Regions from separate parts of the Homo sapiens genome. Here region 1 is linked to region 2. The links come from fine-mapping of genetic effects on gene expression. A gene starts in region 2. The other region holds a variant in brackets. All regions are shown on one strand. Distances are from middle to middle. Region 1 has its middle 22 kb from the start of ZKSCAN7. Region 2 holds the start of ZNF445 (zinc finger protein 445).

Evidence for each region.
Region 1: its variant is fine-mapped to the expression of ZNF445 in whole blood (TOPMed, PIP 0.96).

Annotation. Positions count from the first base shown.
Region 1 is chr3:44,531,878-44,534,793 of GRCh38, reverse strand. No RefSeq gene overlaps it. Among named protein-coding and RNA genes, the nearest start is that of ZKSCAN7, 22 kb to the left of the region's middle. RefSeq lists silencers at 1,623-1,917, 1,809-1,937. The variant C/T (reference allele first, on the strand shown) is at 1,767.
Region 2 is chr3:44,476,041-44,478,956 of GRCh38, reverse strand. ZNF445 (zinc finger protein 445) reads left to right here and starts at 1,287. Exons shown (of 8, transcript NM_181489.6): 1 at 1,287-1,366. It overlaps LOC101928529 (a long non-coding RNA gene), which reads right to left and starts at 1,267. Exons shown (of 4, transcript XR_940785.4): 1 at 748-1,267; 2 at 288-375. RefSeq lists silencers at 1,310-1,469, 1,490-1,539.

The DNA of each region.
Region 1 (2,916 bases), 56 kb before region 2:
TCTGTGAATTTCCTTGAGCAAAGGCATGTGTCTAAACTACTTAAGATCTTTAACTTATCGGGACTGAAATGGGTGGGAGTGGCTTTCAGGAGGGGCCAAGATGTTTGATTATACTCCACTGCTTCAAGGGAGTGTTACCTCCTTGAGCAACTGTGGAATTCTGCTGAGTGGTTATGCTGTCGGGGCATAAAGACATGAAGGCAATAAGAAGACTTTTCTCCTCAGAGGCCGCCCATGGCTCCCCTTGGGTGTCTCACACAGGGAAGACCAACTCAGCTGGCACCGCAGAAACTCTCTTTCCCACAGTGATCAGTATAGCTGCCCAAAAGATACTGTGGATGGAAGGGCCAGCTGCCACATACCCTCCTGATGGAAGTACCGAGTACATTGGCCTGAGACTGGAGTCCTCTCCAATAGCCCACTGTCCAGCCCCTGGCCTTACCAACGCTCAGGACAGATTAGAAATGGACCGTAAGTCAACAGCACCCTCCTTTCCTCAACTTGCCACTTGGGTGGGCATTAGCTCATCCAGAGAATTTGATTTGGCAGATACCATGCTTCTTTTATATCATTTCTTTGCCACCTAATTTGTACTTATGATTGTAGAAATATAAGAAAATATAAAGAAGTAAAAGAAGAAAATAAAAAGAAATTATATTTCAAAGATAACCAGTTAAGCTTTGGTCTTTTTTAAATAGACATTTAAATTAAGGAGTAGTGCTAAAAAAAATACATAGAAGCACATACTTTTTTTCCTTACAAAACCAGATGGTGGGAGAAATGAAGCTCTGCAGGGCATTAGGTCAGATCTTCCTTTCACTTTATTGTAGAGTAGCCTCCACTGCAGGGAGAGAATTCAGCCTGGCACGTCACCTCATGCTATCCAGTGAACCCTGCCCCTCACAGAACACAATTCTGGTCACTCTGGGTGACAGAAGGGGACTTGTAGTCAGTTTCAGCTGCAGAAGGGGTTACTAGCCATGTATAGAACTTTTTTAATTCCAAGAAGTTATGATTTTTAGAATAACTCTAAACAGGCTGGGCGTGGTGGCTCACACTTGTAATCCCAGCATTTTGGGAGGTCAAGGTTGGCAGATCACCTGAGGTCAGGCATTTGAGACCAGCCTGGCCAACATGGTGTAACCTCGTCTCTACTGAAAGTACAAAAATTAGCTGGGCGTGGAGGTGCAGGCTTATAATCCCAGCTACTTGGGAGGCCGAGGCAGGAGAATCACTTGAACCTGGGAGGTGGAGATTGCAGTGAGCTGAGATCATGCCACTGCACTCCAGCCTGGGTGACAGAGCAACACTCCGTCTAAAAAAAAAAAAAAGAATAAACCTAAATATAATCCTAATGTTATACACCTTCCTGTCACCTTCCATCTTGGTGTGCACTTAACACCCCTGAACAGGTTTGACCAGCTCCTTAGAACCATAGTAAAAGACTTTACAATTTGAGAAGGGAACATGAAGAAAAATTTAATCTCATTTATCAAAGTAATACATATTAATCCTGAAAAAATAATTCAGAAATACAGAGGGTAAAAGCAGTCATTCTACTTTTGCATTTAAAAAGTTCTTTGTTGTTTTGGGTTTCCCTAGTATGTTTCTAAGGGGTGTGGGTTGGCTTCACACTCGTCTCTTTCTTTTTGTAGACCCATTTGCCTTATATATTTTAAAGCTGTGCTGATAGGTTCAGGGTGCATGTAAGTTTATGACAAATCATTCAATAGTTACGGAACGGTTGCTGTACACCAGGCACTGTC[C/T]AGGGTCCTGAAAAGAGTCAAGAACAGGATAGAACAGGCTAGAAGCGCCATCTAGTGGATGGTACTTGTTTTATACAAAATTTAGCCGGGTGTGGTGGCGCACGCCTGTAATCCCAGCTACTTGGGAGGCTGAGGCAGGAGAATTGCTTGAACGCTGAAGGCGGAGGTTGCAGTGAGCCGAGATCGCACCACTGCACTCCAGCCAGGGCGACAGAGCAAGACTCCGTCTCAAAAAAACAAAAAAGAAATAAATTGGACTATTTGAAGGAGAATCCTTAGTGTTCCCCCCTACCCCCATTTGCTCTCGCTGTCTCTGAGACAGGGTCTCACTCTGTCGCCCAGGCTGGAGTGAAGTGGTGTGATCATAGCTCACTGCATCCTTGACCTCCTGGGCTCAAGCTGTCTTCCCTCCTCAGCTTTCTGAGTAGCTGGGACTATAGGTGTGTGTCACCACGTCCAGCTGATTTTTATATTGTTTTTTTGTAGAGACAGGGGTCTCACTATGTTGCCCAGGCTGGTCTCAAACTTCTGGCCTCAAGTAATCCTCCTGCCTCAGCCTCCCAAAGTGCTGGGATTACAGGCACGAGCCACCGTGCCCAGCCTCTCAGTTCTCTGTTTTCATCATAATTCAACATTTCACAGATTAGTGTTAGTAGTCTATGTCATAAGAAGTTTATTTATAAAGGTAACAAATAGGTTGAAAGATAATTACAGTAATTCTTATGCTCCTATATTAACAAGTATTGAAAAACTTCACCCTCCTTTCTTAGGGGGTGCCATTTAAACTAACAGATGAATTTTAAAGGACTGCTATACCCCTGAAGGTGTGAGAAAGGAGCATTCTATGCAGTGGGAAAAGTTGCTGCAAAGGCTCAAGATGTAACTGATTGGGCTGATCAGGTGACAGAAGGGAGGCCACTGTGCCTGGATGAGAGTCACAGTGTCAGAGGTGCAGTCAGAGTTGGGCAGAGGCCTGCCTGCGGAAGACCATGTTGGCCAGGTTAACCAATTTGAAGTTGCTTGGGGGAGATTAATTTCAGTGTCAGGAGGCCAGTTAGAGCACCATTGCAGGACTACATTTGAGAGAAGATGGTGGCCAGGACTAGGGATGATGTGCTGTGGAGATGGAAAGAAATGGGTGGATTTACAA
Region 2 (2,916 bases):
GGATTGCCCTCTGGCTTCCAGTTGAGTTGGGCCAATGGGAAGCCCTGGCAGGAGATCAGAAGAGAGCTGGGTTCAGGTTATTTATTACCTCAGCTTCCTTTGTGCTGGACTATGGCTTGGATGTAGCCCTCAACTGAAAGCCACAGTTTCTCTCAGATGGCCTGCTCCTAGGGGTGAGAATAGCTTCTAAATTTTGCTAGCCATGGGATTCTGCACCACTCCGTGTTGCATTTCCTTAACCCTGTCCACTTTGTGTAAATCGCCCCTTGTGAACTCTCCCCACTTACCTTGTTTGAATGTGCCATCTGTTTCTCTATCACCTTGTCACCATCTTCCTGGTGTTCAGGATCTATTCTCTGTTTCCATCTTTGGTGACTGGGGCATTAAAAAGGGGTGGATCAGATGAGTAAAGCAAAGCCTCAGGGCACAGATGGGCATCATCAATGCCCATCTGAAAGATCAATCGTCAACATGTTGCAGCCTGCCACTAGGAAGCACAAACCAGAGGACTACCAGGACAGCAGCTTGTAGCATGCCCTCCAATGGCAGCAGATGGCCTTATGGCTTTGGCTGTGCACCCTCAAGGTTCTCTGGCACTGGCAATAGATGACATTTGCTCCTACAGGGGGTGGGCAACCTCTCCAGGTTGCTTCACCTCCTCTTCAAGCAGCCCCTCCACCCCCTACCCCCAACCTACTCCTCCCAGATTCCACATATTATTGGGCAATGGCATCATTGTTCACTCACCAGGCGAGCCTAGTTAGAATTCACCCACAGGAGAAAACGAGTGAAGGCCGTGGGAAGCTAAAGTATGGTGCACCTCTGAGCTGGCTATGAACAAGTATTCCTGGGTATGGTGATGATGGGGATGAGCTCGTCTTGGAAAGGCAGGAGTTCTGGCACCTAGCTTCCCGTAGGATCTGGTTCCCCTCTTTGAAGTGTACCCAGGCGAAGAATGAGTGGCTCCCTTAACCCCTTCTCCTGGCCAGGACCAGTCTGCTAGATACTGCTGGCCCTATTTTCACCCCTAGCTTTGGATCCCTTTCTTCCCTGGAGGGAAAGAGGCCTTCAGGGCAGCCCCGCAGACACGACAGGAGGGATGCAAGAAAACAGGCGCGGCTGGGCATCCGAGCGTGGAAGGGAAATGTCCAACTGAGGGAGGTGAGGGATGTTGGACAAGCCCCGCCGCCCGCCGCACCGGAGCCGGAGAGAAGCAGAGACGTTGGGCCTCCCAGTTTCCTAGAGAGGCCGCGGAGGGCCCCGGGCGCCGACGCGCGTGCGCGACTGGAGCCGCCGGGAGGTAGGCGCGGGACGGGCGGCTGCGGTGGCGGCGGGTGGACCGATTGTCGCTCGGCGGCGGGAGTCGGTGAGAGGCCTGGCGGGGCGCGGGGGTGGGGGTGGCGGCATTGCGGGCGCGGGGCTCCCCGAAGTCCGCGGCATTCTCGGGCCTGCCCGGGCGGCGGACGGGGCCCGGCCTGGAGGCTGCGCCCGTGGCGGGGGTCTGGCGGTGGATCCCGCCCCCGCCACGCTGAGGGCGTATCTAGAACCTCTTTGCCTCCCAGGCGTCCGGGGTAGAGAATCTGGAGCCCGGGTTTCTCCGGGCTTTCTCGTTTCATCCAATTCTGCATATAAAGCGTATTTATCAGAGACAATTAGATAACACGGGAAAGTAGAAGAAAAGTAAAAGTAGCCGCAATCCTGAAATCTGTCTCCAGGCCTCCTGACATTTAAAATATCTGTGCATAATTCTGCACACTGACATCCATAAATATATATTACGAAATGAGAGCGTGCTCTTGCTTTTTAAAAAACCTGTTAGTATTATTGTGAGGAAACAATATTGTGCCAAAATAACACATAACATTTACCATACAATACATAAACGTTTACCATTTAACCATTTGGAAGTGTGTAATTCAGTGACATTAAGTATATCCATACTACTGCTTTTTAAAAATTATAATCTCCTGAATTTGTAGAATGCATTTGTTCTTATTTTGGCTAAAATTAGTGCTGGCATTATGACACCACTAAAACATTTTTTTTTTGGCGAGGATAATTAAGAAATCGTGTTTGCAGTTTATTTTCTGTAGGAGACACATTTGCATGAAGCTCTAAATGGTGAAGTGACATTTGTGCAGAAAAATAGCAAAATCTTGTTTGTCAGGGTGGTTATCTTTCACAATGAAGTAACTAGTATATAAAATGCAGTTTTTAAACAAAGGCAGAGCTCTAACCTGCAGCGATTGTAGCACACTCTGACTTGCACAGGCCTAAGAGATCAGAGTATTGTCTCCTTCCGAATTTAAAAGTGGTGGCCAGGAAAGAATGTTATTCTGTTTCAAACGGCTTGTAGTGCAAAACTAAAAACTCAGTATTAGGTTGGTTGTTTTGCAAGGAAGTGCCAGGGAGTGGTTTGAGCAGTAATTTGATTAAGCAGTTTCAGAGAGCCTCCATGTGTTGTGTGTGTGTCTGCGTGTGTGTGTGTGCATGCATGTGTGTGCATATTCAGGGACCAAAGAATTAGGCTGCTCTTTTATGTTATCTTAATGAAAGGCAGACACATTTTGGTTAGAAAAAAAAAAAAGTCTTACTGTAAGCCGAAAAGATGAGAATGTTTTGAAGATAAACCTCAGTATGCACTTAAAAAGGAAACTGACAAAAAGCATGAAAAATGGCAAGTATTCCACCGCTAGGTTTTCTCTGGCTTCCGGTATCCAGGAAGAATTAGTGCATAAGCAGTCTACGATGTCAGAGAGTAAACTATAGTAAAACATAACACTGTATTTTGCAATTTTCAAGATTTTGTATTAGAAACAATGTGAAAGAGTACATTTCTGTGACTCTCAGGCGAATTGTTAGGTGTTCTGTAAGATTGAATTTATGAATTTCTTTTTTTCCTTCCTATTCTTAAAT